Regions from separate parts of the Homo sapiens genome. Here regions 1, 2, 3, 4, 5 and 7 are each linked to region 6. The links come from fine-mapping of genetic effects on gene expression. A gene starts in region 6. Each other region holds a variant in brackets. All regions are shown on one strand. Distances are between the middles of the regions. Region 1 overlaps RASA3 (RAS p21 protein activator 3). Region 2 overlaps C13orf46 (chromosome 13 open reading frame 46). Region 3 has its middle 21 kb from the start of RASA3. Region 4 overlaps RASA3 (RAS p21 protein activator 3). Region 5 has its middle 5.6 kb from the start of CFAP97D2. Region 6 holds the start of SWINGN (SWI/SNF complex interacting GAS6 enhancer non-coding RNA). Region 7 overlaps C13orf46 (chromosome 13 open reading frame 46).

What was found. PIP is the estimated chance that this variant, and not a neighbour inherited with it, causes the effect.
Region 1: its variant is fine-mapped to the expression of SWINGN in whole blood (TOPMed, PIP above 0.99).
Region 2: its variant is fine-mapped to the expression of SWINGN in whole blood (INTERVAL, PIP above 0.99).
Region 3: its variant is fine-mapped to the expression of SWINGN in whole blood (TOPMed, PIP above 0.99).
Region 4: its variant is fine-mapped to the expression of SWINGN in whole blood (TOPMed, PIP above 0.99).
Region 5: its variant is fine-mapped to the expression of SWINGN in whole blood (TOPMed, PIP above 0.99).
Region 7: its variant is fine-mapped to the expression of SWINGN in testis (GTEx, PIP above 0.99).

Annotation. Positions count from the first base shown.
Region 1 is chr13:113,975,387-113,979,939 of GRCh38, forward strand. It overlaps RASA3 (RAS p21 protein activator 3), which reads right to left. Exons shown (of 24, transcript NM_007368.4): 24 at 2,397-4,036. The coding sequence ends at 3,961. Among named protein-coding and RNA genes, the nearest start is that of C13orf46, 3.6 kb to the left of the region's middle. RefSeq lists an enhancer at 3,502-4,002. The variant G/A (reference allele first, on the strand shown) is at 2,686.
Region 2 is chr13:113,952,545-113,957,076 of GRCh38, forward strand. It overlaps C13orf46 (chromosome 13 open reading frame 46), which reads right to left. Exons shown (of 7, transcript NM_001365455.2): 7 at 1,161-4,295. The coding sequence ends at 4,229. Among named protein-coding and RNA genes, the nearest start is that of C13orf46, 19 kb to the right of the region's middle. The variant T/C (reference allele first, on the strand shown) is at 2,891.
Region 3 is chr13:114,151,128-114,155,680 of GRCh38, forward strand. No RefSeq gene overlaps it. Among named protein-coding and RNA genes, the nearest start is that of RASA3, 21 kb to the left of the region's middle. RefSeq lists enhancers at 1-170, 171-671. The variant C/T (reference allele first, on the strand shown) is at 2,229.
Region 4 is chr13:113,995,523-114,000,075 of GRCh38, forward strand. It overlaps RASA3 (RAS p21 protein activator 3), which reads right to left. Exons shown (of 24, transcript NM_007368.4): 20 at 4,063-4,145; 21 at 1,009-1,217. Among named protein-coding and RNA genes, the nearest start is that of C13orf46, 24 kb to the left of the region's middle. The variant T/C (reference allele first, on the strand shown) is at 2,620.
Region 5 is chr13:114,171,401-114,175,953 of GRCh38, forward strand. No RefSeq gene overlaps it. Among named protein-coding and RNA genes, the nearest start is that of CFAP97D2, 5.6 kb to the right of the region's middle. The variant A/G (reference allele first, on the strand shown) is at 2,521.
Region 6 is chr13:113,927,139-113,931,691 of GRCh38, forward strand. SWINGN (SWI/SNF complex interacting GAS6 enhancer non-coding RNA) reads right to left here and starts at 1,853. Exons shown (of 1, transcript NR_047495.1): 1 at 1-1,853. It also overlaps a transcript of C13orf46 not described here. RefSeq lists an enhancer at 3,799-3,868.
Region 7 is chr13:113,968,589-113,972,588 of GRCh38, forward strand. It overlaps C13orf46 (chromosome 13 open reading frame 46), which reads right to left. Exons shown (of 7, transcript NM_001365455.2): 2 at 1,583-1,634; 3 at 7-172. Among named protein-coding and RNA genes, the nearest start is that of C13orf46, 3.5 kb to the right of the region's middle. The variant A/C (reference allele first, on the strand shown) is at 2,055.

The DNA of each region.
Region 1 (4,553 bases), 48 kb after region 6:
CTCAAAACAACCCTTACAACAGTGTGGCTTATTTGGGCAGCCCCTTCTGCCCCTTGACAGGCACCTCGCGAGCCGGCGCACCCCCCCGCCCCCAGGACCCGCTTCCCGCACCCGGGGCTCCTCAGCCAGGGGGAAGCAGGTGTGACCCCCAGGCTGCAGGCTCCCCTCCTTCTGATCTCTTCTTTTGAAGAGCCCACAGCCTCTCAGCACCCAGGAGGCCTCAGCTCTCTGGGCAAGTGGTGGGTGCAGGGTGGGGGCCTTGGCCTCACACACGCTCTGGCACTGCCTGGCCTCCTGGGACGGTTCCTCAGAGGCACCTGCTTTGGACACTCTGATGTCGGGAGCCCCGCGGATGCTGCCAGGATGGGAGAGGAGGCCGCTGTCTCTCTCCAACAAGTGCTGGGTCGTCTGGAGCAACAAGGGCAAATGGGCGTCACTGGGGTCTCCACAAAGCCACCTGCAGTCTCTTGGTGGGTGTATTAGACAGTTTCCATGCTGCTGATAAAGACATACCTGAGACTGGGTAATTTATAAAGAAGAGGTTGAATGGATTCAGTTCCACATGGCTGGGGAGGCCCTGCGATCATGGTGGAAGGTGAAAGGCACGTCTTACATGGCAGCAGCAGGAGAGAATGAGACCAAGCAAAAGGAGAAACCCTCATAAAACTTTCACATCGGATCTCGTGGGACTTATACCACGAGAACAGTATGGGGGAACCGCCCCATGATTCAATCACCTCCCACCAAGTCCCACCCACCACACAGATTCAATCACCTCCCACCGGGTCCCGCCCACCACACAGATTCAATCACCTCCCACTGGGTCCCGCCCACCACACAGATTCAATCACCTCCCACCGGGTCCCGCCCACCACACAGATTCAATCACCTCCCACCGGGTCCCGCCCACCACACAGATTCAATCACCTCCCACCGGGTCCCGCCCACAACACAGATTCAATCACCTCCCACCACACAGATTCAATCACCTCCCACCACACAGATTCAATCACCTCCCACCACACAGATTCAATCACCTCCCACCGGGTCCCGCCCACCACACAGATTCAATCACCTCCCACCGGGTCCCGCCCACAACACAGATTCAATCACCTCCCACCACATAGATTCAATCACCTCCCACCACACAGATTCAATCACCTCCCACTGGGTCCCACCCACCACACATGGGAATTATGGGAGCTGCAACTGAAGATGAGGTTTGGGTGGGGACACAGCCAAACCATATCAGTGGAGACGCGCAGGGGCTTCCGGCCCCCATACACTCCCACCTCCCACTGCCCTGTAGGACTCTCCTGGCTGTTCCAGAAGGGGCTTCCATTCTCCACGTTCCCTGGGGCCTCGTCCTCCTTGCCCTTCTACTTCCTCTTGGAGGGGCTGACCTTGGCCCTCCTGGGCTGACCCCAGCACAGCTGTGCCCAGAGTGTGAACGGAGCCCCCTGGCTCCCGACACTGCCTGAGGCCCTGCCGGGAAGTGTGGCTCCAGGAGGACGGGCTGGCCTCCCGGGGAGGATGCCCCCACCTGCAAGGGTTTGTCCACCACCCATAGCCACTCCTGGACTGGGGCAGACCCCACACCTCAGCATGGACTAAGGAGGCCGGCCAGGCTGAACCAAGCCTCACCCTTCCCTGGGAGAAAGGCCTGGGTTGGTGTCCCCAAAGCCACACCTCCTCATTTTTCTCATACCAGAGCTGACTCACAATAGAATTACCAAAAAAGAGGAATTCAAATGGAGCAAGGAAAGGAATAAAGAAATGAGGCAACGTATCATGGAGTCTTCACCCAGAGCCCCCCTTAACCCTCTCCTGCCTGGAGGGACAGCAGCCACCTGCCTAGAGGCGCAGTCCGTTCTCTTCTCCCAGGGCCTCCAAGTGGCCTCCCCCTCTGCATTCCTGGAGATGGCAGCACGTGGTGGTCTGTCTGCCCAGCACTCCTTGAGTGGACACACCTTTCCTGAGGTTATCACAGGGCCGGACTCTCACCTGAGGCACCACAGGTGAATGCCACTGTCAGAGCAGCGCTGCCCATCACCAAAGATGTCAACTGTCACCAGTGATGTCACCTGTCATCAGGGCGGTGCCACCTGTCAGAGCAGCGCTGCCCGTCATGAGGCGTCAACTGTCACCAGCGATGTCACCTGTCACCTGTCAGAGCAGCGCTGCCTGTCACCAGAGATGTCACTTGGCATCAGCAATGTGACCTGTCATCAGGGCAGTGCCACCTGTCAGAGCAGCATCACCCATCACCAGGGACGTCACTTGGCATCAGCAATGTCATCCTGCTCCCCAGGTGCCACCCTCCTCCCTGTACCCCCCACCCCTAATGCCCACATGTGCAATTCCCAGTGGGTACCACTGGAAAACCAAGGCAGTCCTCAGAAAGAATAAAACATCTGTTTTAATTGGCCAGTAAAATACATTGCAAATCATTAGTATTTTATAAACAGAAACATTAAGTTATAAATCCATGTTAAAAATTGCAGCTCAGTGCAGCCCCAACAGCTGTGTGTCCAAAAGTCTATTTTTACAACATTTTCCTCCAGTATTTTTGTGACAAGAAAGTTCCTATCTGCCATCTAGATCAAGAGCCTGAACTACAGTATTTTCAAACAAGAACCGGGAGAAGTCGGTACAAGGATACGTCGTGCTGTGTATTTAAACGGC[G/A]CTTCCCACACACCTGCCGTCTGCATCCCGGGAGGACGCCCTTTGGGAAAGGCCTCCTCGGCAGTGTGAGGTCTGGAGGGGTCTGCCTGGACCCCATTTTTAGGATGCTCCCCTCCCCAATAAAACAGCAGCCCCCGCCCCTGCCCTGCACAGCATCTGGGGGTTCATAACACAGGTGCAATACTGACCATGGGCCCTGGAGGGACGTCTGCACCCCGAAGCCCCTGTACCTCAAACTCAGAGTTTCTTCCCTTCTTTGATTTTCTGGAGGACCTGCAGCTGGCCTTCCTGAGACAGGCTCCATTCCTGTTCCATTTGCCTTCCCGGCAGCCTTCCCTTTAGTGGGTATAGGTTTTGACGTTCTGAGTTACTTTGTATCAAAGAGCTAATTAAAAATGGTCCTTCAAAAACATAAAGAAAAACAGCTTGAAAAATGTACATTTCTATTTTTAAAATCTTCAAACTTCCACGGGGGGTGGCAAATGTTAATTCTGATTTTAAACCCCATTCAACAGCAAAACGATGTGGGCTTCAACTGTGGGCTCCGCAGACGCCTGGAGAAGCTGGAGCCCACACCTTTCCCTCCAAGGGACTCTGTGGACAGAACCCGTATCCCCCAAGCACCAAGGACATCCTCAGACTGGGACTTCTGTGTAATTCTGCACCTCCCAGCCATAAAACTGACCCCTCAGCCAGGAATCAAACGAACCTCGAAAGTGGAACAGGGAGGCCGCCTCCCATGGCTGCCTGGATGGCAGGCACAGTGGGAGAGTAATGCTCTGAACCTCCCAATGTGATGAAGCCGAAAGCCGAGGCGGGGCCAGCAGGCCTCCCGGGCACAGAGCCACAGAGCCCAGCGTCACACGCACCGTGCACGCAAGACAGACGTGCACGAGACTGACGCACACACGGCCGGAGGTGCATGTCACAGTCGACTAGACGGGCCGTGGCTCCCTGAGGCTGGCTGTGGTGTGGCTAGGGCACAGCCCACACTTCCTGATCCTTCAGCTGATCCCCAGATCCCCACAAACAAGGAGCAAAAAGCACAGAATCAAATGACGACACGTTCCACAGGGCCAGGTGGGCTTTCTGCGGAGGGCGTGGCGGTGGTGGCAGCGGTTCTGGGAGAGGGAAACCCCAGCGCCACTTGTCTATGGGCCGGGACGGCGTGCATCTCACTTTGCCGGCTCTGCGCTCTTCCTTCTCTTCTCCCTCCCAAAGGCTGCGGCTTTGCATGGGCAGCTTGCTGGCGCCACTGGGCGCGTCCCGCAGACTTTAAATGGAATGAGTGGAGGTCTCGGACTGCTGCCGGATGTAGTTCTGGAAGCTCTTGTCTCCGATGGGGTGCTCCCTGAAAAGGGGGATGGGAGAGGGAATGAGGCACAGACCCCGTTGCCTGGTGCTCACCCGTGGCTGCGGGAGCTTTTCCTGTTCCTAAATGTGACACACTCACACTGCAATCCACACAAAAAATAGAGGAGCCAAAGGAACCACAGTGCCCCCGGAAGCACCCACGGTGACTCTGATGTGTGTGCACAGGTGGGTCAGGCGTGCAAGTACATGTGCACGTGTGCTCTCCCTGTGGCACGTGTGTAGCGCATATACATGTGCAGATGTGGAATATGTAGAGTGTATGGCACGTGTGCAGAATGTGCACATCTGCACTGCAAAGAGTGTGCTCATGTGTGGGGAGCATGAGCTCCAGGGACACAGATCTGTCCCAGTGCTGGGACACTCAGCAGGCGTGGGCACCTCCTCCCCACATGCACACCTCCCTCATACCATGTGTGTGCACCTCCTGCCATGTGTGTCCACTACCTCCATGTGTGTGCACCTCCTCCTACGTGCCTACCACCTCCATGTGTGCA
Region 2 (4,532 bases), 25 kb after region 6:
TCAGGGGCCAGTGGGGACTGAGGATAAAACTGAGGCAGACTGGGCCTGGGGCAACGGGGGCCACCACCCCAGGACCACTGGCCGGCCCTAGAAAGCCCAGGCGGCATCTGTGCCCCATAGGACTGAAGGCCAAGGGCAGCGTCCTTCTAGGGGGAGCCTGGGCTTCCACCCCTCCCTGGATGTCACCACAGCTGATTTGCTGAGCTCAGGGCTGTGCATCTACAGGGGGTTCCTGCCCTGGGCCCCTGCCTGGTCCACTCCATCGACCCCAGCGCTGCTGCCTGAGCCTCTCAGCCCAACGGGCCGGGCAGCAGCAGGAACACGCTCATGCTGGGCGGGGCGGCGGGGCAGAGGCAGCCCCCGGCCTCAGCAGCATCAACCACGTGGCAGGAGCTGCTCTCGGGCTCTGCGGCGCGTAGACCTGTTTCCTCAGGGATGTCTCCTGCTCCCCACAGTCTCCAAAGCCCAGCCTCGTCCCCTCCACTAAGACGGGGCTTGGCCTCACCGCTGACCATCCTGGACGCTGACTGCCGCTGCCAGGACCCTCTGAGTTCAGCGCCCACTGAGCCCTTCCCCAGACCCCCGGCCTGGCACAAGGCAGCCCCATTCCTTGGGTGTGTGGCTGCTGAGTGCCCTGAACAGCTCGCTCGGGACCTGCCCGCTTCTCTGATGGGAGTTGGGGCCCAAGCCAGGTGGCCACTCACATCCCACAGGGCGTGTGCCTGCGCCACGGAAATCTCCCTGAGGTAGGAAGGTGTGAGCCAGGCCTGGCCGCCCTGGAGTGCCCAGAATCAAGGCTCAGAGGAGCAGCACGTGGAACTTTACCCCCCGTGGCAACAATCACCTCTCCGGGGTCCCAGGAGTCAGCCCTTCCCACCCCAGCACTGGCCCTGATCAGCTCTTCCCCCGGACACTGTGACCCCCACCCCACCAGACAGTGAAGGAGGAACAGAATTACCCTGGGTTTGAGGAAATGAGCTCAGAGCCCAACAGAAGGCAAAGGCGCGTCTGACTCTGGAAGGCTCACATTCTAACAGCTAAGCCACTGCCAAGCTCCTGTGTCTGCAGAGCCATGGGACCTCCCTGTCCTAGAGGTGGCTGCCGCCAGCATACCCAGAATGAGGCCAGCCACACGCGGCGACAGGACGAATACACGGGTGGACAGACTCATGCCGATGTTTGCTCTGTGGGGGAGGGTGCTGGGAGCCACCCGGCAGAGCTGCCGCCTCCTGCCCCACCAAGGGGACAAACCAACCGTATTTCCGGAAGCTTCTCTGGGTGCCTTTCTGGTTGGCACAGTTGGAGGCCGCAACTGAGTCACACCCAACTGCCCGGCAGCCTGTCCAGGACAGCCCGTCCAGGGCCCATTTCCGGTTGTCTGGGAAATGATGACTCTGGGGCCGATGGGCACTTATCTTCTGTGGTGTCTTTCAGTCAAGGGTGGGTGCTGGCTTTGGGGGGTCCCCTTTCTCTCTGCAGCCTGGATGGTGCCCCACTTTGATCAGAGGAAACTACCCAGTGGGACAAGCTCTGCGTGGCATGCGGCTCCCTGAAAAGGGCCCCTCCCTCCCTGGCTGAGTGATGGGCAGAGCTCACCCTCTGGGAGCCTCTGCATTATCATGTGCACCACAGGGACGGCCCCCATGTGTCTCCACGGGAATAGACAGTGCACACAGCATCTCCGCCTGTGGCCTCTGACTGCCTTAGAGACACCCGGATCAGAGATGCTGCAGGTCACCTGCCCGTGCCCTCCTGTGCACATGTGTGGTATGTACGAGCATGTATGTGCTGTGTACATATGAATATGCACGTGTGCGTGTCTGAACGAGAGGGCTCTGGGTGGATTCTGGTGAAACTCGTCTTACAGGCATGTCCTGGAGCCCCCCACACCCCTAGGAAGACTCCCTCTCCTCCTCTGAGTGGGGAGCATGTGGCTTCCCTCCAGGGACAGATCCTAGTGCCAGCACCACAGTCTCTGTTGCTCTCGCAGTCACAGCCGGGGCTCAGCTGCGTCCACCGTGCTCCTGGCTCCTGCAGGGACTTTGGTGACACAGCAGATGCTCCATCCCTGCCCTGCACCTCTCACTCCTGCCTGGTGGGGGTGCTTCCAGGAGCTGCAGCTCACACGAGGCCCACAAAGGGCTGAGCCTCCCCTGCTGTGCCCCAGGGGCCTCTGTCCCCACCCAACAAGCCACTGAGCAAGAGGCCAGGGCAGGAAGGGGCTGGAGTCCTCCAGCTGGTGGAGACGAGGAGCAGCTGGTGGAGACGAGGAGCATCCGGTGGAGATGAGGAGCATCCGGTGGAGATGAGGAGCATCTCGTGGGGAGGAGGAGCATCTGGCAGAGACGAGGAGCATCTGGCGGAGACGAGGAGGAGCATCTGGCGGAGACGAGGAGGAGGATCTGGCGGAGACGAGGAGGAGGATCTGGCGGAGACGAGGAGGAGGATCTGGCAGAGAGGAGGAGTAGGATCTGGCGGAGAGGAGGAGTAGGATCTGGCGGAGAGGAGGAGCATCCGGCGGGGATGAGGAGCATCCAGTGGGGATGAGGAGCAGCTGGTGGAGAGGAGCAGCAGCTGGTGGAGACGAGGAGCATCCGGTGGAGATGAGGAGCATCTCGAGGAGAGGAGGAGCATCTGGTGGAGAGGAGGAGCATCCCGTGGAGACGAGGAGCATCCCGTGGAGACGAGGAGCATCTGGCGGAGACGAGGAGCATCTGGCGGAGAGGAGGAGTAGTATCTGGCGGAGAGGAGTAGTATCTGGCAGAGAGGAGTAGTATCTGGTGGAGAGGAGGAGTAGTATCTGGTGGAGAGGAGGAGCATCCGGCGGAGAGGAGGAGCATCCGGCGGAGACGAGGAGCATCCGGCGGTGACGAGGAGCATCCGGCGGAGA[T/C]GAGGAGCATCCGGTGGAGAGGAGGAGCATCTCGAGGAGCGGAGGAGCATCTGGCGGAGACGAGGAGCATCTCGTGGAGCGGAGGAGCATCTGGCGGAGACGAGGAGCATCTCGTGGAGAGGAGGAGCATCTCGTGGAGAGGAGGAGCATCTCGTGGAGCGGAGGAGCATCTGGCAGAGACGAGGAGTAGTGTCTGGCGGAGACGAGGAGTAGTGTCTGGCAGAGACAAGGAGTAGTGTCTGGCAGAGACGAGGAGTAGTGTCTGGCGGAGAGGAGGAGTAGTGTCTGGCAGAGACGAGGAGTAGTGTCTGGCAGAGAGGAGGAGCATCCGGCGGAGACGAGGAGCAGCCGGCGGAGACGAGGAGCAGCCGGCGGAGACGAGGAGCAGCCGGTGGAGACGAGGAGCATCTCGAGGAGAGGAGGAGCATCTCGAGGAGAGGAGGAGCATCCGGTGGAGAGGAGGAGCATCTCGCAGAGAGGAGGAGCATCTCGCGGAGACGAGGAGCATCTGGCGGAGACGAGGAGGAGCATCTGGCGGAGACGAGGAGTAGGATCTGGCAGAGAGGAGGAGTAGGATCTGGCGGAGAGGAGGAGTAGGATCTGGCAGAGAGGAGTAGGATCTGGCGGAGAGGAGGAGTAGGATCTGGCGGAGAGGTGGAGTAGTATCTGGCGGAGAGGAGGAGTAGGATCTGGCGGAGAGGAGGAGTAGTATTTGGCGAAGAGGAGGAGCATCCGGCGGAGACAAGGAGCATCCGGTGGAGACGAGGAGCACCCGGTGGAGACGAGGAGCATCTCGAGGAGACGAGGAGCATCTCGACGAGAGGAGGAACATCCGGTGGAGAGGAGGAGCATCTGGTGGAGACGAGGAGCATCTGGTGGAGAGGAGGAGTAGTATCTGGTGGAGAGGAGTAGTATCTGGTGGAGAGGAGGAGCATCTGGTGGAGAGGAGGAGCATCTGGTGGAGAGGAGGAGCATCTGGTGGAGAGGAGGAGCATCTTCCCGTGCTTGTTTATTGTGTTTGTTGAAGGTCACGTCATCACTCACCCAGTGGGCAGTGGGTTTCAGGCGTGGCTCACACCTGGTGTGGTCATCGGCACCCCAGCGTTGCTCAGAGCTGGCGGGATCTTTAGCCCAAAGGCGCAGTCTGTGCTCTCGCTCCTTCCAGGCCTGGCCAGTCCCACAAGAAGAAAACAGAAACCTCAGTGCCTGGCAGAGAAGGCTCTTGGGCGGCAAGTAGGTGGCCGGATCGCCCTCCGTCCCGCCTCCTGTGCCCCCAGCCCCTCTGCACCCCGTCTCCTTCCTCTTCTTCGCCAAGCTCTGAGCACCCTCTCCGGGGCGCTAGGTGCTCTCCTTTGCCCTCTTCCTGGTGGAGTACGGGATGCAGCACACCCAGCTGGTCTGCATCCTGCAGGGCGAGAGGAGGGCAGGTGGGTGAGAAAGGGTCCTGGGCCAGCACTGTGGCCACAGGCACCCCGAGAGCAGCACCCCCAACCTGAAGTGCACTGGGAGGTCTGCCCTGCACTTGTGTATGCACCCCCTTTCATCAAGTGCACTGGGGAGTCTCCCCTGTACCTGCATATGCACCCCCGTTCATCAAGTGCACTGGGGGGTCTCCCCTGTACCTGCATATGCTCCCATTTCA
Region 3 (4,553 bases), 220 kb after region 6:
GGCTGGAAGGTTCTCGGGGCTGAGACTCCTGGGCTGGGCTGGGGTGGAAGAGGGCCTCACTCACACGTGCAAGGCCTTGGCAGAGACATGGCCTCCGAGGCACCTGAGGTCTCTGTCATTCACTCCCTCATTCTCAGGAGGCCAACTCGGCCTGCCCACTTGGCAGCAGAAGGTTCCCACCGCAACAGCGGGGACGTCCAATGCCTTTCAAGCACTTCCCAAGTTTCTGCTGGTGTCAGGGCTGCTTTTGTCCCCTTGGTCAAGCTGCACCGTGTGTCCAGGCCCAGCGGTCACAGGGGAAGGGCCATGCAGGCTCGGTGTATGGAGGCAAGTCTGGGCACCATCACAAACTCACCATTTCAACAAAACACTCATTGTTTCTGAACTATCTTTAAAAACAACTTTTAAGAAATAAGAAAAGCTATTTCCAGAGCACTCACCAGTGCCACGTGCACACGGATCATCTAATTCTAGGGGGGCAACTGCACGGTTTGCCCCCGACCGTCCAGTGTTAGTGTCCAAGGAAGCCCCTCAGTTCCGAGGTGAACCAACAGAACAGATCACCCTGTGAGGTATGAAGTGTTGTCCTCTGCATTCGACAGATGAGGAGGTTACAGCTGCGAGACTGTAGGCGGTTGCCCGGGCGCTCTTCCAAGTAGGTAGCAGGGCCGAGTGAATGAGCCTAGGCACCGCCCGGTATTGCTGCAACAGCCAGGCGGCGCTTTGACTTCTGGGTCAGTGTCACTGCCTACCTGAATCACTCACTTCCTGTAAAATACTTGATTCCAAATTACTTTGGTCTGTATTGAAAAATAAAATTCAAGTTTACCTTTAAAGACAAAGATTTGCCATATTTAAGGATATTTTAGAGAACGTGCTACTGACTCTGAAGAAGAGGCATAAAACCGCCTTGAGGAACGGCATCGTCTGTGCTGAAGCAGGCAGCGCCCAGCTGACGACTGTCAATGCAGCCCTAGCAAACACGGCCACGCTGCCCTCCATCCAGGGTCCTGTCCAGTGCTGTGCTAAGCACTTCACGTGGTGACAGCTAGCTGCACACCAGGCACGGTCAGGTGCTTAGCGTTTATTAAGTCGTTCAATTCTTCTGTAACCCCATGAAATGGATGCTATTGCTAGAGCTGTTTTCTACAGAGAATTTAAGGATTTTGCCTAAGGAGATGTCACCAGCAAGTAGCAGACCATGGTTTGAACCTGTCCCCCAGTCCCAAGTCTACACATAACTGTTGTCCCACGGGTGATAGGTGTGACAGTCCTAGGCTCCAGCTCTTTCCCCGGCGCCACAGTGCCTGCTGTGCTTGGAGACACCACCCTCACCTGACTGGGAGAGCTCCACTCAAGGACCCGCACAAAAATAATCCCAGCTTCCGTGGTTTCCTCACACCATTCCCCGCTCACAGTTTACCTCCCTAGGAACCCAACACTGTTTTCCTGTAGCTCATCACTTCACAAATGTATTGCCTTTTGTTAAAATCGTGAATAAGCCTCTGGTCTGACTGCCTCTGCGGGGTTTTTGTCTCATTTCGTGAAGCCGCCACATGCATATGAAGTAACGCTTTTTCTCCTGTTAATCTACTTTTGCCAGTTCAATTTGCAGGACTCCAGTCACTAAAAAACATAAGTGAGTGAAGGAAAAGTTTTTTTCCTCACCACCTGTTTGTTGGAAAGCAAGTAATGGCCCACCTGGTATTCTTTTGGTCAAGACACAACGGGGAAATGGGGCTCCGGTCAGGCCCCTCAGGTTGGGCCTAATTGGAGCAGAATCGGAGGGGCCTGGGCTTCTTGCTGCCAGTGGCAAATGTCCAGTCAGGAAGTCACACGGGCAGCAGCAATGCCGGCAAGGGACGCTTGTAGCAGGAACGGGGCAGCCTCCCTTACTCAAACAAGACGCGGACTGCCTGAGGCCGGCAGCTCAGAGAACAAAAGGCAAGTGTGAGGGGGACGGGGTCAGTACTCAGAAAGCTCCATGTGCCTTCCTGCTGAAAGCAACATTGAAAGCACAACATGTGCATTTGGTTAAAAACGCTGAGGGCTTGTGCTGGGAGGCGGCAGTGGTGGCCTCAACCATCTCCCCGTCCGCCCGCATGGCAACCACGACGACTATTTCCTCTGGTCAGGCATTTCCAACCTCCTCCTGTTATTACAACACTCTCTACTCACTAATTTTAGATAGAGTCTGTGCCAGACTTCCGACTACGATAGTGAGAATT[C/T]AGCCAACTTGCTCTGAAGAAATCATACAGGGCCTAAACTTTCTGAGTCCGTATGAGTCTAAAAATATCTTTATTATTCCCACACACTTAATTTAGGGTCCAGGATAAAAGCAGATTTTGCCGAGAGCCTAGAGGCATCACTCCACCATCTCCACCACTACATCCCTCCATCATCTCCATCACTACATCACTCCACCATCTCCATCACTGCATCACTCCACCATCTCCATCATCTCCATCTCTCCATCACTCCATCACTCCATCATCTCCCTCATCTCCATCACTCCATACTCCATCATCACCATCTCCATCATTCCATCATCTCCATCATCTCCATCATTCCATCACACCATCATCTCCATCATCTCCATAGTCTCCATCACTCCATCACTCCATACTCCATCATCTCCATCACTCCATCATCTCCATCATCTCCATAGTCTCCATCACTCCATCACTCCATGCTCCATCATCTCCATCACTGCATCATCTCCTCATTCCATCATCTCCATCATCTCCATCACTCCATCATCTCCATGCCTGTTGACATTTTCTCAGGACCTGCCTGCACGCCTCGACCTCTGCCTTGGAAGGTCTGGGCTGCTGTGTTTTCTGCTTGTTTCTTGCACACAACGTAAAGTTGGGTTTCACTTTGCGAATGATCCCACGAGTCTTTTTGTTGAAGAGGTGAGTCGAATTTATTTACTTATGTAGACTGAGAGGAAGGATGCAGTGGCCCTTGGTTTTGTCATATTTCATGTTATAGTTTCTAACCAATCCTCTTTTAAAAATTTCACTAAGCATTCTGTGTTCCACTGTGGGTGTGTCTTGATTTGGAAGGTTGATGTTTTTGTTCCAGGAGATACGTTTGCTCAGTTTTCCTTCCCCTTGTGGCCACACTTCTCTGCTGCTCTCATCGTTTCATTTGTGCCTTTCCCGTTTTTTGTCTGTTGGTTTGTCTGTGCCATGGTGTGATCCTAGCTCACTGTCACCTCCAACTCCCAAGCTCAAGCACCTCCCGCCTAGGCCTTCAAAGTGCTAGGATTGCAAGCGCCGCCCCACGCTCAGCCCCTTTCCCTTGTTAAAAAGTGCCTTACTCTCAAGAGGCTGAGGCAGGAGAATCGCTTGAACCCGGGAGGTGAAAGTTGCAGTGAGCCGAGCCGAGATCGCGCCATTGCATTCCAGCCTGGGTGACAGAGCAAGACTCTGTCTCAAAAAAAAAAAGCCTTACTCTGTCTGTGTCTAGACCCTGTGGGGCTTCTCTGGTTAAGGGGGCCTGTCCTCCTTAGATGAGCTGTCCCAGGAGGCTGCTACTTCCTGCAGCTGCTGAGGCTCACCCTCCTCTTTCCACCACTGAGGCCCAAGGCTCCAGTTGCTCTGAGGAGTGTGGAGGCCCGTGAGGTGTGGGGGTGCGGAGTGGCCGTGGAAGGTGTGTAGGGGATTGCAGTTGGGGTTGGGTGCTGGATGTGCAGGTAGAGTATAAGGGTAGGGGGTTAAGGTGTGGGGCATGGGGGAGATTGGGGAGGTTGGGAACATGGGGCAAAGTGGTGGGGGATGGGGGATGCAGGGGTGGGGATGGGGGATGCAGGGGTGGGGTGTGGAGTTATGGTGAGTGGGGGGCTGTAGTGGGGCGTTGGGGGTGGAGGGGGCTGTGAGGGTGTGGGGTGTGGGTCATGAGACATGGGACAGTGGGGGCTAACGGGGTGGGTGGGGTGTGGGGTGTGGGATGCAGAGTGTGGGAGCTCAGGGAGTTAGAAGGTCGAGTTAGAGGGTGTAGGTGTGGGGGCATGATGGTGGGGCCTGGGGGAGGGGGAGGGTGCGCAGGTGCAAGGTGTGAGGGTGGAAGGCTGGGAGACCGGTAGTGTGTGCGACTGTGGGGTGTGGAAGTGGGGGACTCAGGGGAGGAGTGGGGTGTGGAGGTGTGGGGCACGGGGTGGGGGGTTAGGGAAGGGTGGAATGTAGGGGGAGTTTGATGTAAGGGTGGGGGCTATGAGGAGGGGTGGGGTGTGAGGGTGAGGGTGGGGGCTTTGGGCAGGGTAGAGGTGTGGGGCATGGGGTGGAAGGCTGTGGGAGCAGTGGGGTATGGGGTGCAGGGCATGAGGGTGAGGGGCTAAGGGGAAAGTGGAGGTGTGGGGCATGGGGATGGAAGATTAGGGCCAGTGGTGGGGTGTAGGGGTGTAGGGTGTTACCTGGAGGGGGAAGGTGTGGGATGCACGGTGTGAGGGTGGAGGGGTGGGGAGGGTGGGTGCTGGGCATACGGGTGGACAGTGGGGAGGGGTGGGGGCCAGGCATGAGGATGAAGGGGTGGGGAGGGGTGGGTGCTGA
Region 4 (4,553 bases), 68 kb after region 6:
ACCGCCAGGCACCCAGGCCTCCTCCTTAGGACCGGCAGATATGACCCAAGCCTCTGTGCAACTGCCAGAGGCCCGGCTGATGGGGGGCCCTGCTGATGGGGGGCCTGACAGGGGGCCCAGCTGACGGGGGGCCCAGCTGACGGAGGACCCAGCTGATGGGGGCCCGGCTGATGGGGGGCTGGCTGACGGAGGACCCAGCTGATGGGGGGCCCGGCTGACGGGGGCCCGGCTGACGGGGGCCCGGCTGACGGGGGGCCCGGCTGACGGGGGGTCCGGCTGATGGGGGTCCGGCTGACGGGGGGCCCGGCTGACGGGGGGCCCGGCTGACGGGGGGCCCGGCTGATGGGGAGGCCCGGCTGATGGGGAGGCCCGGCTGATGGGGGACCCGGCTGATGGGGGGCCCGGCTAATGGGGGGGCCCGGCTAATGGGGGGCCCGGCTGATGGGGGACCCGGCTGATGGGGAGGCCCGGCTGATGGGGAGGCCCGGCTGATGGGGGACCCGGCTGATGGGGGGGCCCGGCTGATGGGGGGGCCCGGCTGATGGGGGGCCCGGCTGATGGGGGGCCCGGCTGATGGGGACCCGGCTGATGGGGGGCCGGGAAGACAACGGGCTGCTGCGTCATGTGGAATCAAGGTGGGTGTCCTGGGCCAGACGAAGCTTTCAGGGAGGGGCTTGCTCCCAGCCTCCTCCTAGAGAAGCAGGATGGCCACGGCCTGGGGAGTCCCCCTTCACCCTGACCTCCCGCTCCCCCGGGGCAGGGCCTCAGGAAGACCCTCGAAGGCCTGTGGCACCCTGGAGTCTGCGCAGAGCCTTCCAGAGGCTGGGCCCCAGATGCTCCCTCGAGGGAGGACCCCTCGGGTGGGAGGCTCCTGGGAGGAGGCGAGGGCAGCCCTGTTTATGTGCAGCTTACAGGCAGGCATGCACTGTCTGCTGGTCCCTCCCTACTCAGCCCCTTGGCCACATTTCCTGCACAGTGCACGAGCTGGGCACCGAGGCACAGACCTACCCAGTGCAGGGCGAGCAGCCCGGAGCCGAGTCGGATGGCGCCCTACAGCACAGCCAGTGGCCGCTCAGGTAGGCGGACGGGTGGTAGACGGTGAGGCGCTTCTGGTTGCACTGGCTCACTTTGGTGAGAATGTCGATCCAGTCCTTGGCCTCCACGCAGTTGTTGGCCTGGATGTACAGCGCACGCTCTGGCTGGATGACCTGGAACATCTGAGGACACAGGTGGGCTCAGGACAGCGCACATGAGGTCTCGTGGCTGAGCACGTGCAAGAGTCCACCAGGCACCTGGCCGTCCTCGCCGGAGTCGTAAGAGGGGACGCTGAGGGTGCACAGGCCCAAAAGTCCTGGAGCTCTAAGCCCCAGAAGAGGCCAAGGCCAGGGGGTGCATGGAGCTCTCTGCCACCCTAAAACCTGACAGCTGGGGCCGTGGGGAATGGAGGTGAGAACTGGTGCAGCTGGAGATGTGGCCAGGTGGCCAGGAACAGCTTGGCCAAGGCCCTTTATGTCCTGGAGCCTTGGAGGTCTCCATTCAAGACAAAAGAGGGGCCCTGTGGCCTCCCCACAAGGCCCTCCTGCAGCTGACTGCAGGCATCCCATCCACGTGGTGCTCGTGCTGTGTCAGCCCAGGTGGCCCGGCCTGCTCAGCTCCTTCCCCAACTGACCAGCCCAGGATTCTTCCTCCTCCTCCCAGCTGGGGTTAGGGGGCTGCTTCCTCTTGAAGCGTCTCGGGGCAGCAACAACCTTTACCATTTATTACTCATTCAACAAACATGACTGAGCACCAGCACTCTCCTATGTCCCGGAGACAAAGCCTGGCATAGAGTTTCTACTGAACCTGCAGCCACCAAGAAAGACTAAACGAGGGCAGGTGTCAGCAGAAGCTGGAAGTGAGCAGTCCTGGTGCTGTAGTCGGCGTTGACTCAAAGTTAGTTAAGCAGGGGGTGGGGGCAAAGGGTGTCAAAGGCAGAAGAAATGGGAGGCACAAAGGTCCTGGGGCAGGTGGGACAGGGGTCCTGTGATTGGAGGGACAGGTCTCCCGGGGCAGGAGTGACAGAAGCCTTAGGATTAGAGGGACGGGGGTGCTGGGGCAGGGGGGACAGATATCCTAGGATTGGAGGTCAGAAGCTCCCAGAAGGAGCCGGCTCTGTTGCACACAGAAGACAGGTTTTCTGAGTAGGAGACTGACTGGAGGTTGGGAGGGCTCTCATGTGGGACTTGCCCTTAAGTCAGGAGTCAGGGGGACAGTGGCCTTCTCTAGGGGACGGGCCTTCTGCACTCATCTGGGGAGGATTTGGGCTCCAGGTTTCTGGTGAACAGCTGAGGTCTTATTTACAGAGGCCAGGAGCCTCCCGCCTTGCACCCGGCACATGTGTATAGGTCTCGGACTGGACGCCCCCGTGCATGGCTGTGATCCCCCATGGAGGGCGTCCTGGCCATCATCCCAGGCTCGGCCCTGCCACCAGGAGCAGCCTTCAGAAAGGTCTCCCCAGCTGGTGAGAGCCTGGCCTGGCAGTGGCCTCAGGGGAATCGGGCTCTGAGGAAGTCAGTGGGAATGAACAGCTGGGAACAGGCGGCTGAAACTAGGGAATTATTGGGAATCTATGTGAAGGGC[T/C]GGAGGTGCTTCCAGGACATGTCCACACTGCTTCCTTCGAGGGACGGTCTCAGGGCCAGGTTCCGGCCATCCCCCTCAGTCAGCAGGCATTGAGCCCACACCCTCCTCTTCCCATCTCCCCCTCTTCCCAACCCTTCTCTTCCCAGCCCTCCTCTTCCCAGCCCTCCTCTTCCCATGCCCTCCTCTTCAAATTACTCTCCAAACTTATGCCTTTTGCAGGATCTGTCTGGACTGCCTGTGAATAACATGCTAGTAAAATTCTGCCAATGGTAAGGAACATGCGTCAACTTTGGCACGAGGCCCAGGGACTGTGCCTTCCCTGCAACTGTTCTATGACCCTCATGCTGCAGTCGGGGCACAGAAGGCTTGTCCCAGCCAGCATGTGTCAGGGTACGGGGTCAGCCTCAGGATGGCACGGACGGCGGGGTCACTGGCTGAAGGGGCACTGAGTCACCAGGGAGAACGTGGCCAGCGGCCGACTCTGGGAGGCCACCACACAATGGTGACGCCACGGACACCTCTAGGGGATTCCCGCCAGAAATGCATCATCAGAACCTGCCACGTCGGCACATCCGACAAACCCACAGGGAGGGATGTCCAGAAAACCGAAGGCCTGCACGCCTCAAAGATGCCAAGGCCACCACACACAAAGAAAGGCTGGGAGTGTCCAGTGGGCCAGACGGAGGGGGCAGCAGAATGCAGCGCAGACTGGATCCAGAGGGGAAGGAACCACAGCCGGAAGAACGGGACTGGACAGCGGCAAACTCGAATGTGGTCGCGCCGGCGACGTGCGATGGTGGCTGCTGTGGTTTTGGGGACTGCACGGTGGGAAACACACTTGGAAGTGTTGATACATTCAGAAAAGCACGGGCGGGACCGTGAAGGGAGAAGGAACAAGTGTGACTGGGGAACGAGGCGACATGTGGGTCCGGGTCAAGCGTGACCGGGGAACGAGGCCACACGTGGGCCCGGGTCAAGCGTGACCGGGGAACGAGGCCACACACGGGTCTGGGTCAAGGGTGTGTGGAAAGTACTTGTTCTACTCGTGCAACTTCTATAAATTCAAAATTATATCAAAATAAAAAAGCTTCCAAAAGGAATTCCAGACGGTCCCAAGCCTGCTTCTGGGATGTCTTTGACAGAGGGCCCCTTGACATTGGGGACCCTGCGGGGGACGCCACCTGAAGCAGCTCAGGCCCCACCTTCCGGCAGGTTCCACCCCACCCCGGTGACCCCGGGCACAGAGAGTGTGGCTGCTTTGATGCGAGATTCCGACACAAACTCACCAGCACCTGGTGAACAACCCGAGTAACACGAAGACTCTGAGAAGCCTGGAGTGCAGTGGGTGGGGAAGGGTGAGCCCAGGGCCAGGTACGGGAAGAGAGCAGAGAAAACCTGGCCAGGCCTCAACCCGAAAGAGAGGCTTGGGGGCCCCACACTCACGTTTTTCATTTTGAAAGACTCCTCCTCCAGCTTCTCCACTGCCAGGATGTTCTCGATGGGAATGCTGTAGAGAGGCTGGTCCCCTGCAGCAGAGATGGACTGTCAGTGGGTGCGGGCCCCGCTGTCCCGGCTGGGGTCCGGGTGGGGCTGAGGGGTCTCTGCCGGGGGGTCTCCCAGGGGGTCTTTACCGGGGGGTCTCTGCCAGGGGGTCTCTACCGGGGGGTCTCTGCCAGGGGGTCTCTGCCAGGGGGTCTCTACCGGGGGTCTCTGCTGGGGGGGTCTCTGCCAGGGGGTCTCTGCCAGGGGTCTCTACCGGGGGTCTCTACCGGGGGGGGTCTCTGCCAGGGGGTCTCTGCTGGGGGGTCTCTGCTGGGGGGGGGTCTCTGCTGGGGGGGTCTCTGTCAGGGGATCTCTACCGGGGGGTCTCTGCTGGAGGGTCTCTGCTAGAGGGTCTCTGCTGGGGGGTTCTCTGCTGGGGGGGGGTCTCTGCC
Region 5 (4,553 bases), 240 kb after region 6:
GAGTCCCAGGCTCTTGGAGCTTGAATATCCACTTTTAATGAAGCTGACTATTATCTATAGCACTGTTTAATAAAAGTTCTTTTAAGTTTCTTATTACCCGACTTTAGCCAGGCCCAACAGCCAATATTTTTGTGCTTACAGAAAGGAAAATTCAAGACTGTTCATGGAGGGGAAGAGGATTTAAAAATGGCAAATGTCACCCAAATATCAATCAGAAAGTACTCATTCCCTAAGCCGGGAATTGAACCATGAACCTGGCAGCCATTGTGATAGAGAGACTGAGGAAAACATTTCCACGTGGTTACAAGCTCAAGCCCCCAGGGACGTTTAAGACAAGATGGAGACCTCATCTACTTTTATTTTCTTTTTCTTCTTTCAGGGACCTGAAGCAAAGTTTATAACTGACCAATTTGCATCTCGAACAGTGGGCTTATGGTGTTTTAGGCATGCATTTTATCCCAAGGTACCCCTTTTAATGACAGAACAATACAGAAAGACACACAAAGCACACCAGATTCACTACAGTTTAAGACCAGCCTCAGAATTCTTTTTCATATTAACTAAAACTTTACAGAGGAGATAAACAGTGATTTTTACTATTCATTTAACCAGTTTGCACAGAGAAAAAGAGGCCAGGATTTCTCTGACTCACGAGGCATCCTTAGCATTTTGTCGGCATGCTAGGCTTCTGGGTTCCCTTTCCCCGAGGGCCCCACTGACCCGGCTTGCTGCACCAAAGCCAATGCAGCCAAGCCACAGCACAAAGGAAAATTATCTTTTTCTGCTCTGGCCAGAGCAAAATACATGTGACAAAACATAGATGTTAGCCACTCTGCTTTGCCCCCAATATCAAACTGGCAAGGCTCAAACTTGCCCCCAGATTGGCCCCATCATCTCTAAATCTTTCTAAAAGCTTCTGCATATTAATATGCATCCCTAGATGAGACTAATTTGTGAACCCTCATTTTTAAATGCACTTTTGTGCATTGTTCATTTGGAACATTCCACTGTAAGTTACCTTTAGTAAGATTTTGCCATTTCTTTAAGACTTCATGGCCTCCCAGGCCTAATGTATAAGCCAGAAGGAACTCAGTTTTCTAGAAACTAAGGATCCCATTTTTGATAGCATTAGTATTAAGAGAAATACGTAATGTAGATGACAGGTTGATGGGTGCAGCAAACCACCATGGCATGTGTATACCTATGTAATAAACATGCATGTTCTGCACATGTACCCTACAACTTAAAGTATAATTTTAAAAAAAAAAGGATCCTATTTTTACCTAAAATATTGGCTTTACTCTCAGATTCCCTTGATTAACTTAGCCAATTGATATGGTTTACTGTGTCCCCACCCAAATCTCAACTTGAATTATATCTCCCAGAATTCCCACATGTTGTGGGAGGGACCCATTGGGAGGTAACTGAATCATGGGGGCTGGTCTTTCCCATGCTATTTTCATGATAGTGAATAAGTCTTGCAGGATCTGATGGGCTTATCAGCAATTTCTGATTTTGCTTCCTCCTCATTTTTCTCCTGCTGCTGCCATGTAAGAAGTGCCTTTCACCTCCTGCCATGATTCTGAGGCCTCCCAGCCATGTGGAACTGTAAGTCCAATTAAACCTCTTTTTGTTCCCAGTTTCAGGTATGTCTTTATCAGCAGCATAAAAACAGATTAATACACCAATGATTTTTTTCTACCTAAGCGCACAGGGAAAATGAAACAAAGGGGTGGAACACAAAAATCCCTGTGAATTTCCAAAAGCCAAATTTTATAACCCCTACAATATCAGATCCCACTTCTGACACCATCTATTAAAAGAAAAACTTGAGCCAAATTAAATCTAAAGGAGTTTAATTAAGCAATGAAGGATTCACAAATTGGACAGCCCCCAGAATCACAGCAGATCCGAAAAGACTCTAGCACGGCCATGTAGTGGAAGAATATTTATAGACAAAGAAAGGGAACTGACGTACAGAAATTGGAAGTGAGGTACAGACAGCTGGATTGGTTACAGCTCAGGGTTTGCCTTATTTGAACACAGTTTGGACACTCAGCAGGGTGAGTGGTTGAAGTACAGCTGCTGGAATTGGCCAAGACTCAGCTGTTGTTACAGGCTCAGACTCCTAAATTAGGTTTTCAATCTTGTCTACCTATTAAGTTAGGCTGCAGTTTATCCACAAGGACTCATAAATCTGGAAGTACAGAGTCCTTCTTGGGCCATATTTAGTTGCTTTAACACACCTATAACAAATTAACTTTACCAAGGTGTCTTCCAGTCTCAGCTTCTCACATGCTAGTAAGAGGAAGTTTTTCCAAGGTATCTTCTGGGCTCAGCTCCCCACTTACTGGTAAAAGGAGCAGTTTTGTGCATATCTTGCTGGGTTTGTCTTTCCAGTCATCACAAGAGTGGCTGCACCACACCCCATCACTTTCTGTGTGGAGTGGGCCCAGCTCCAGCTCTGTGCAACAGTAAACCAGTGACACTGGAATTCATGTGTTTATACACTCAGCTTTC[A/G]CATGCTTCTGCATCAATTTTTTAAGACTATTTCCAGAGTGGGATTGAGACCTAAGTGAATCGTCCCAGGAATAGGGTTCTTGAGAAATGATTGCATGAGTAAGGCTGCAGTTAACACCACCATGACTAATTACCAGCAAATTGAACTCCTTCTGTTCTGTGAAAGTTGCTAGTACCAAAATAGGTTCACTCATATCAAACTCTAACAAAATGGGGTGGGGAGGCCATGACGGGGCGCCCTCATACACAAACACCTGGACAAGCCTCATCTCAAGGCACCCCTGCACGGGCCTCAGGTTCGCCCATATTAGGATGCATTGCACGAAAATTCCTCAAGACAGGTCGGTATTACAGGTGAGCGGCCTGCACAAGGAGCTAACGCCAGCTCTGGGACAAGCTCTGCTAACCAGTGATTTTTGTTACAAAGCAGCTTCTGTGGAGTTCTCTCTGTCTTTAAAGATCTCCCCTTTGCCCTGGCCCCTCCAGTGTGCCTGTGATCTATCATAGCATGCAATCCCGTGCTATTCTCACTTAAATTTATTTGTTCTGGAGAGCCTGTTCCTTTGAATTTCCTTTTAGGTGGACAGTTCAAGACCCCTAACACATTAATCCACTTAATCCAAAGAGCTCCTCTTGTATCAGGGAAGGCCACAGGGACATCCCTGTCTTGTTCCTGACCTTGGAATTGCATTGCTTAGTTTCCAAACATGGGATTTCCCAGTTATCTTTTGTTATGAATTCCTGGCTCTCTGCCACTGTGAACATTATCTGTATGATTTCAGCCCTTTGAAACATGTGGACACTTTTTCATGGCCCAGCATACGGTCAAATTTTGCAAATGTTGTAAACATTCTTTCTGTATTGAAAACTTTTATGGTTTCCTGTACTCTGCAGCTATTTCCGATTTTGTCTTTTGTGCCTTGAAGCAGAGTGAGTCTTATCATCTGTGTCTGAGCCATCTGCTCCAAGGTTCCTGTGGTGCTAGTCGTGTCTTCTCTGCAGGATTGATTCACTTTGCAAGATGTTTGGTGCACTGAGACACTGGAAAGTTGGCAGCATCTTGAGATGTCATCAGTCCAGGGCCACGTTAAGATAATTTCGCGACTTGAGGGTTTTTTAGGCACTGTGACATTAAGCTAATTTCACAACTGTGTGAACCTGGGCCGCAGGGCTCTTCCTTGTCTTGTCCCCTGCTCTGCTGTAACCTGGCAGTTGTTGAAGGATGGGTTATTTCTGATCCACGTTTTCCTGAGGGTGAAGACTTCAGCTCCTATGAAGACTGCCCACCTGCCCCATCCCCCACAAAGACCCCACCGCTGGCATCCTGAGTGCCTTCAGGAGAAGCCCTCTGAGTGCTGGCTCGGGGGTCTGACAGATTTTTTTGACCACAGCCTCAAAATTCCTGACTCCTGGGTGGGCTCTTCAGTATATGCAAGATGGCCTCCAGGATTCTGGCTTTGTTCAGTGGAAGGGTCGACTTAAGCAGGTCACGCAGCAGTTCCTGGTGGTGGTGACTCCCAGCTTCTTTAGCTCAGCTCTTGAGTGATTTGCACTACACAGAAGGTACTGGAGACACAGTTACCTTTTCTGGAAATCAATGTTTGCAAGCACATTTGCCCTCCAAAGGTTGAAGGTTGAGTGAATTTGAAGTGGTTGGAGATTTGTTTGTAAACCACTCTTCTGCAGAATGAGAACGAAGTTGCTGCTTGGTTTTGAAGATACGGCCTTTTGTGGGAGGGCAGAACAGAAAAATCAAAGCTTGGATTTAGAGTTAAGGACACAGGAAAAGAATTATGAATATTAAAGACTGAGTTAATATGTGTCATATAGCAAATACTTTACATATTGCATGCAACATAGTAAGCTGTTCTATGTAACGGCCTCCACATTTCAGGATATCACTTGGTGACATTTCAAGGCATTTCTAAGAAACAAAACGTTAAACTTAATATTGGGCCAAAATATTGATTAAGGCAGCAGCTGAACACCCAAATATAATCTGGATAATCAAAGTCAAAAATAGGCGTTGGTAT
Region 6 (4,553 bases):
AATACAGCTCCGCTTCCCTGTGGGGGGAAGCATTGGCCCCAACAGGCCTTCTTCACCAACGGGGACAGCAGTCCCTTGAGTGGAGCCCTGGACTCAGGGAGCTCTGGTCAGTGAAACTCTCAGCTAGGGGCTAAGGGTATGGGGACCTTCATATGTGGGACAGGCTCCTCGCTGGGGACGCTGCCACCAGGCCTGTGAGGCAGCCAGCCAAGTTCCACTTGCTGCAGCTGGGGCTGCTCTGGACGGCCAATCCAGACACCTCCCCCCTCTCCACCCTCTTTCCATCCTCAGGTTTGCATTTCTTAGGTCTGGCACTTCAACTGCAAAGTACAAGTCCTGGGCTATCTCCTCCTGCTCTGCTGAAGGCCACATCGATGCTTGGAAGGTAGGGTCAGCCCAGTCCCTTGCTCCACACACCCAACTACACTGATGGAGCGACCGTCTACACAGGGATCCTACGGTGGGGAGTGAGCCTTGCTGGCCTGATGCATGGCAGTGGTTCCTGCTCCAATAAGACCAAGAATAATTAATAACTGTGACTAAGTTAGAAGCTTTGGCTGCATCTGAATTCACCAGCGTTTCCAGCTCCTGAGGCCATGTGCGGTGTCACCTCACTCCTGGCAGACAGACTCCCACTCGGAGGATGATTTTTCATAGCCAGGGTCGCTCTGTGGACCTTGGATGGACCAACGTGCTTTCCATGTCCAACTTTGTCAAGATCCGGGGAAGATTCTCCAGCAAGTCTCTTGGAAACATGTGCATGTGGCCCCAGGCGACGTGAGGGGTGCAGTCTGCCTGCGTTATGCAATGCTCAGGCCAGTTTTCCCTGAGAGAGGAATGCTGCCGATCCTCTGCGGTAACCCACAAAACTCCACGGAGATGCTTGGAAGGAAAAGCATCGCGTCCTCCAGATGTTTTGAAATGTTCAAGTATTTAAAAGGGAAATGGAATTTCTGTTTATCCTTTTAAGTGACAATTATTCATTGCGTCTTCCTGGCCACAGCTCATTCAGCACTACTGCAGATCCGGCCAGACCCCCAGGAGCCGCGGCCCCTGCACAGCCAAGGCCAAGAAGCTCCCATCGTGGAGGGGGGCGCATTCCGGACCTGTGAGGCCCGGGGTTCGTTTTTATGCCTCCTTAAAGGGATGAGCCAGAGAAGAAAGTCTTCGCAAAGCCTTTGCCCCAGGAGGGGCGGGGCTGCGCAGGGCGCCTGTGGAGGCCGTGGCCGGGCAGGTGGGGAGGCTCACACACAGGCCAGAGGCTTCCCTGGAAACTGACGCCCTAGGGCAGGTCCAGCTCCTGGATGGTCGCAGGTGAAGAAACGCCAGGCCCAAGGGTCCTGGGAGAGAGAGGGGAACAGCGCCCAGGAAGAGGTGCAGGTTCCCAGGGACTGCAAGGGCCGCCGCCACCCTCCCACACCCCACCCTCGCTGCATCACCAGTCAGCCCAGGGCAGGCTGCTGACCCTCCCTTGGCCTCAGTTTCCTCATCTGTAAAATGGAAAAAGAAGCATGTCCACCTCACCAGTGGTCACAGTCACAGGTGCTGACATGGAGAAGGATTGATGCGTCCTCCTGAGTGCTGCCTTGTCATGCTATAAACCAGGAGGCCTGGCTCTCTGCCTCCCGGGAAGGTCTGTTTCTAATCCTGTGCTGGGTCTGCGTGGCTCCATGGCCTCAGAGGCTGACACCGAGTGTGGTGTCCCTGGGTCACCGTGCTCCTTGGTTTGGTCCAGCAGGAGAAAGGGCAGCCTGCCAAGGAGAAGGCTGTGAGCTTGGCAGGGGAGAACTTAGGCGCTGTGCCTTTGGGAGGCTGGGATTTAGATCACAGCTGGGAAGCTAAGTCCTGACTGCACTGGCCGGAACCAATGGGCTCCAGTAGCCGGATGCTCTGCCAAGTCAGGAGGTAATAACCGCCACGGCCTGGGAGAGAAGCTGGCACAGCCGTGGGCCCCTGCCCTGCGGTCTGGCCTCGCAGGTCCCCAGGCCGTGTACAGACACTGTGCGGCAGGGAAGCAGAGGCAGCCATGGGGAGCAACCCTGTTTCTCAGTGCTACATGCCTACTCTCCCTGAGCTGATGTCTGGAAGACAGTAAAGGAGACCTGAGGCAGTGCTGCCCCTCCTTCCGTCTGCCACCTCCTCAGGGCTGGCCCAGGCCCTGCAGAGCAGGTGGTGGTGGCTGCTGGTGGTAAAGCCCGTCCATCCAGAGCCTCGCTCTGCTCCCAAACCACCCACCTCCCGCTGCACATGTGGCAGCTTCAGGAGCCTGGCGGGGCTAAGAGGAGATGACAGACCCCAGCAAGGACAGGCTCAGCTTCTTGGGGACCGAGTCATTGCCTGTTGCTTCTCCTGGGGGCCTCGACTGTCCGAGTGTGTTCAGGCACACGGTGCCCTGTCTGTTTCCCAGGCACTTGGGCCAAGGCTGGACAGGGAGGTGCCATGTGGGACGAAAGCCCAGGCTGTGCAGTGCTGGTCACCGGGAGTGACCATGGGTGAAGTCGCGCTGTGAGTGACTGCCTGTTATCACTGACCACGCAGGGCCATCCTGGGTGACCCGCTGTGCCACAAGCAACTGGTTCACATTGGAGCCCCCCTCTGGAGCCCTGGGCAACCCGCTGCCAGTGGGCCTTTCTCCTGAGGCCCCTGGAGTCCCGGAGCATCCCGTGAGTTCATCTGCCATACCTGTGATTGCCATGTGGGCCCAGCGCCCTCCAATGGAAAAGCTGCATTCAGTTCTGCCCGAGGATCCCAGGCCTACGACACTGTCCTCAGGCTGCCAGGGAGCAGGAGGCTGTGGGGATCTGCGTTCTTGCCAGGCCTGGGAGCAGCAGCCAAAAAGTGGACTTACGTGGACAAAATGTTGGGCCAGGGAGGAGCCCTCGGCTCTGGACGGATGTCTCTGGTGCTTTTATGCCACGTGCATTTCTGCAGATTTGATGCCCGGCAGCCAGCACTGGGCTGTGGCCATGGTGGTGAGGCAGCCTTGGGTCTGCACGAGGCTCGGAGGCCTCCAGGAACCTCCCAGGAATGTGACTGTGCCTGGAGAGAAGCGCCATCTGCACGGCGCAGTCCAGATGCTTCTCTCCTACAAGCCCATCATCAAACACACAGCTGCCCAGACTTCAGCAGGATTTGTGCACAAGAAACGCAAAGGCACAGTCCATCGGGTGAGGCAGAGGTGGAAGGAGCACCGGGGTGGGAGTGGAGGAGCACCGAGGTGGGGGCGCAGGAGCACCGAGGCGGGGGCGCAGGAGCACCGAGGCGGGGGCGCAGGAGCACCGAGGCGGGGGCGCGGGAGCACTGAGGCTGAGCTGTCTCTAGTGATCTCTCAAGCCTCAGTGCAGTGGCCACAGGGCAAGGTGCCTCCTGGTGTGTCCTCGCCTCCAAATCAGGCTGCTCCACTTCCCAGGTCAGAGTCCTGGGGGGTTGTGTTGACCCTGAGCCCCCACGAGCATCCAATCCAGCAGAGCTGGAAGGACCCAAGAACCTGCATTCCTCATGGCTCCCATCATGCTTCCGGTCCAGGAGCCACCATCCAGACCACACTCCCATTCATCCCCTGGCCACGGAAGCTGAAGCCTTGGTTTCCCCACCTGTAAAGTGGGAGTATCAACATCACCCACATCAAAGGGCCTGGATTAGATGCGGTGATGCCCGTGGACTTTAGCAGCCCCGGTCCTCCAGGGGCCCTCCCAGGGAGCTGAGGCCCGGGTGGTCCTGGCGGCCGCTCCTTCTCCAGGCCGAAGACAGGAAGGTCTCTTGGGCTGACCTCAGGCAAGAGGCGGGGTGGGTCACGGCCTCCAGGGCCAGGCTGGGGCCTCCACAGAAAGCCCGTGGGTGGCGAGAGGGAGCCGGCTGGGGTGACTGAGGGTCGCTGGGTAGATGAGGGAGGGACCCGGGGTTCTTGTGTTCACGTGTGTATTTGCCCCGTGTTTCTGCTGACATGCCACGTGTGCAACAAACAGGCTTGGCGAGCCATCCCCACCACCCAGGCCGAGACGCCAGACGTGACTGGCACCCCAGGGTTCCCTCCCGGCCCCCAGAGGTAACCCCAATGCTGGTTTACCACAGATGACTCATTCTGCCTGTTTTAGGGTTTTGAGTAAATGAAACCCAACAGCGTGCAGTCTTTTTGCCTGGCTTCCCTTTAACCACGTCTGAGAGGCTCACTTTGCGGTTGCTTCTGTGGCTCCTGGACAGTTTCCCTTGTGCGGACACAACTCAGTGAGAGCACCCCTTCTTCCATTTGTAGACTTTCCAAATAGTCCAGGCGAGAGAGGCTCAGGTCTTGAGTTCAGGGAGGGGCAATGCACAAGCAGACGCCAAGTGGAAGGGAGTACACCCCTCCCTTGGCGGGGAGGCCCTCGGGCTGGTGGGGATGAGCGCCCCTCAGACGGCACCTGCGGGTGACAGGGTGTGACATTCTGCTGTTTCTCGGAAGTAACTCGCAAGCAGCATGGGGGTTCCTAGTGTGTTTCACAGACTCTCACCAAATGTTAGGGTTCACTCCTTGTCCTACAGCTTAAATACACCAAAAGTGAGAAAATTACGAG
Region 7 (4,000 bases), 41 kb after region 6:
CCCAACCTTGGCCTCCTGCAAGCCTCCGTCTGCGTGCTCGCCTTCCTGCACCTCCTGCATGCTGGCCTCCAAGTCGCTCTTCTCCCTCTCTGGGTCTTGTTTTCCACTCTCATGACCCAGCTTCCCAAGGGTGCTGAAGCTTTCCTTCTTGTCTTGTGCTAGGTTTTTCTGACTGCGGGAGGAGCAGGGAAAGTGGTTTGGAAGAGACGGCAGATAGCTGCGGGCAGCTCCTGGTCTCCTCTGGGTCTGTCTCCTTGGGCTTGAGGCTGGTGCCCCTGGGGTCTGGTGGGCACCTATGAGGTGCCCTGACCCAGCACAGAGTTCTGGCTCTGAAGGGCCCCACAGCCTGGCCCTCCTGGCTCCCTCTGCTGGCCCATCTTGCCTGGAAAACTTACCCTGTACAGCCAGGGTCTGGACTGGGATTACAGCCAACCTGGGCTTATTTTGGAAAGCAGGGTCTAACCTTGCTCAAAGAACCAAAATCTGATGAGAAGATGCAGCCACCCTGTCGCAGATCCACACTCCATGTGGATACCAAATGGGCCATGCTGGCCAGTAGGCTGGAGGGTCCACGGTTGGCCCTGCTGTTACTCGCACCAACCTCGTGACCCCTTCTGTGGTCTGCTATGGTGTGTGGCCAGGGGCAAGAGGAATGCAACAGGCAGTGAGGATGACAGGGGCTCCGCCACCATCTGCAATGGCGTTGACTTGGCCGAGGGTATTGACTGACTTGGCCAACGTGAGCAGACGCTTTCAGCTTTGCCACCCTAAAGGTGTGTGGTCTTCCCAGCTCAACTGCCCTCACCAAGGCCATCAGCTTCCCTGAGCTCTACGGAGTGGGAGGCTCCAGGCGCCGCACACATCCTGTCTAACACACGAACACTCACTCTCACCAACTGATTGCACCTTTGGCCGCTTCGGCGGCCGGACACCTTCCTTGGTCTCCACTCAACGGGAGCCATTTGTAAATAAGGGGGACTTGGCCCGTGCCTTGCCATGGTGCTGGTAAATCGACTTTGTTAGATCTGAGACAAATTTTTGAGGAATTCAATGACTTTTAAGTCTTCTTTGATGGCAGGAGGGTGAGTGGGTGGGAGAACCAGAGCTGGGTTAGAACGGGACGCGAGGTGCAGGGAGGCAAGAACTCGGCAGTACGAAGTGGGGATGTGCTGTCCAGGGCCCCACGCCCTCTCCCTAAAGGAGCACTCGAGTTGTTTACATCTAAGGTGGGCCCAGCAGTCCACTAGTGAGACGACGCCTCCTTCCCCAGAGGGCCATGGGGTGTCTACTGAGAGGGATGCAGCTGTGTGACCCTCAGGCCAGGGCCCGAGTCCTGAGGACACCACCCCGCTACAGGTGGGTCCTGTTCCCACGCTGAATTCCTCTCAAAATAAGGAGGATTTCCCAGCCCTCCCATCCAGGCCCTGCGCGGGGTCTTCGCAGGACCCAGGGCTCCCTCTGTCCCCTTCTAAGTGTCTACCTTGATGCCCGGGTACCACTCCCACACCCCACCCTCTCCTGTGTCCACCTCACTTTTCCCAGCTCCACCTTCACAAAGGCCAGCGTCGGACAGGCTGCTTACCAGCTGGCATCTTCCGCGTTACTGCTTGGGTCTTTCCCTTGATCTTCGGACTCTGGGGAGGAAGGACAGAGCCGTCAGCACCATTACACCGCAGCTACCGGAGCTCAGGACCTGCCCCAAGCCGCCCACAGCCACCCACAGCAGAGCTCAACTCTCAGCCATGGCTACAGCTAACTTGAGTTTCTCCCCGACCTGTGCCCATGCCCGGCCCTCCGGTATTTGCTATCGGCACTTTCCACAGCCTGGTGCCAGGGCCTTGAGCCTGGCTCAGCCCCAGCAGCTCAGCCCACACCTGGGCTCCACCTTCTCCCTGCAGGACTCAGGGTGAGGCATGGCCAGCCGCCTTACAGTAAACACATGAGGCTCCGGGACCTCTTGAAACTCCTCTTTGTCCTAGCACAGCTGGCTGGAGGTAGCTGAGCGGGAGGGTGGGAGAAGCCCACAAGACCTGCCCATGCCGGCTACTACCCCC[A/C]ACCCAGGCTTCCTCTCACGGACAGGTGGGACTTGAAACCCCACTTGGCTTGTCCAGGAAAATCCACCAATCCCCAGGGTCTCTGGGCTCCCCGAGAGGCATTGCGGGATGTTTCTAGCAGTCTTTTTTCGGGACCACTTTATGTCTCGTGAGGATCTTTACCTTGATGTGACAGAGGACAGGGGCCCAGGAACATCAACTCGGGTGAGCGGTGCTCTGGTGCTCCCGGCAGGAACCCAAGCCTGGCTGTTGGCCACCGGCTTGCACCGAGCACACACTGCTCCCTGGCACACTTGGCTAAAGGTGTTGACTGACTTGGCCAACGTGAAACATTCCATTCTAGTTAAACACTGAGTTCTCCGTTCCCAGGAGCTTGCAAACCAGCACAGCCTTGTGAGGAAGTCATGTGGCAGAGGATTCTCCAAGCCCTAGGTGCTCAGGAGAGCCTTGGAGTGAGCGGATTCCAGATCCCACAGGGCCTCCAGCCGCATCGGAGCCGGGAATGTTTGCGGAGACCCTGGCTTCCCGCAGCTACTCCCTCTTCCCACAACACCCCCTTGGCCCGGGATTCAAATACAACAGGGATGATTCCAAAGCTTTAAATGATGCTTGTGATGGAAGAGACCAGACCTCCTCCCAGAGCTCGGCAGAGTCACATGGGCCACTCCAGGCAGGTCACTCAGCTCAGCCCACAGGCCCAAGGGGCAGCTGGGGAATGGGGCTCTTCCAGGGAAATGAGACCAATGGCCGACCACGAGGGGCTGCCCCCAACAGAGAAGCCACGAGTGGGGCCCAGAGGTGGAGCGCAGAGCCTTTGCAGAATCAACAGGCGTCCAGGGTGCATGTGGGCTCAAGGCAGGGCCTCAGTGGGTCTGGAACCCAGCGGATTCTCACTGTGCTCTTGCCGGCCTCTCTGGGCTGCCCTCCGTGAGCGCTGGTCTCCTGTGCTCCGCATGGCCCAGGCCCAGACACACCCCACTGGTGCCCCCGTGAAGTCGGCCACCCCACGTCTCCCGCATCCCGGAGGCCTCCCTGTGAAGTGGACGCGGCGTCTCACACATCCGGGCACCTGTGGGTGCACGTGGCACTGGGCATGTCATGGAGCCCACCAAGTCTGCGAGGGGTGAGGAGCTGAGTCCCTGCAGAAACCAAGGCCACGTCGGACTCTACCAGTGGTCAGCAAGGCCCGGCCCTTCTCCTCGGGTCACAGGGCTGGAAATGCCTCCTGCTCTTCTCCGGCAGAATCTCAGTTGTCTGGGGGCAGCCACAAAGCTCCAGGGAGGATGCGCTCCTGGGCCGTGGTCTCGAACCCTGAGGGTGCTGGTGCCTGGGGGAGGCTGTGCAGGGTGGACATCTTTGCCAGACAGGACAAGCGGCCACACAGAAGCCCGGCCTCCCTGCTGCGGCACCTCCCATCGTGCAGTTTTGGGCAAATCCAGCAGGTGTTGAGGGAAATGTCAGCCACAATGGGGCTCAATCCCTCCCTCCATCCGACCCCGGCCTCTAAGTCCGCACTGTGGTGGCATCGGGCGGCATTATTGGAGATCCACTCCCCGCCCCAACTTAAATTCCCGCTAAGCAGCCTTGGCGTAACTTATTCTTTTGAGAACTTTGCACGTCTTGAGGGAACCCCGTGGGGAGGGAGGTAGGGTGCAGCCTCCTAACTACTCACGCCCCCCAAATAGCACATATTTGGATTTTTAAACTCAGAGAAGAACACATATTTTTACATCATTACCTCTTAAAATTGTCCCCAGGGCTTGAGCAAGCAAACCCCGAGTCCTACCGGGCTGTCTCACTTCCACGGCCCCGTGGACACCTTTGCGAAGGGGAGGCGGAGCTGCCGAGGCCGCGGGAGGGGAGGGGAGCGCCAGCTCGCAGCTCCGTGTCAGCCCCTCAGCCCTGTGCTCTGGGCCAGTATTCAAGGTGTGAGGAGGTGACTGCAG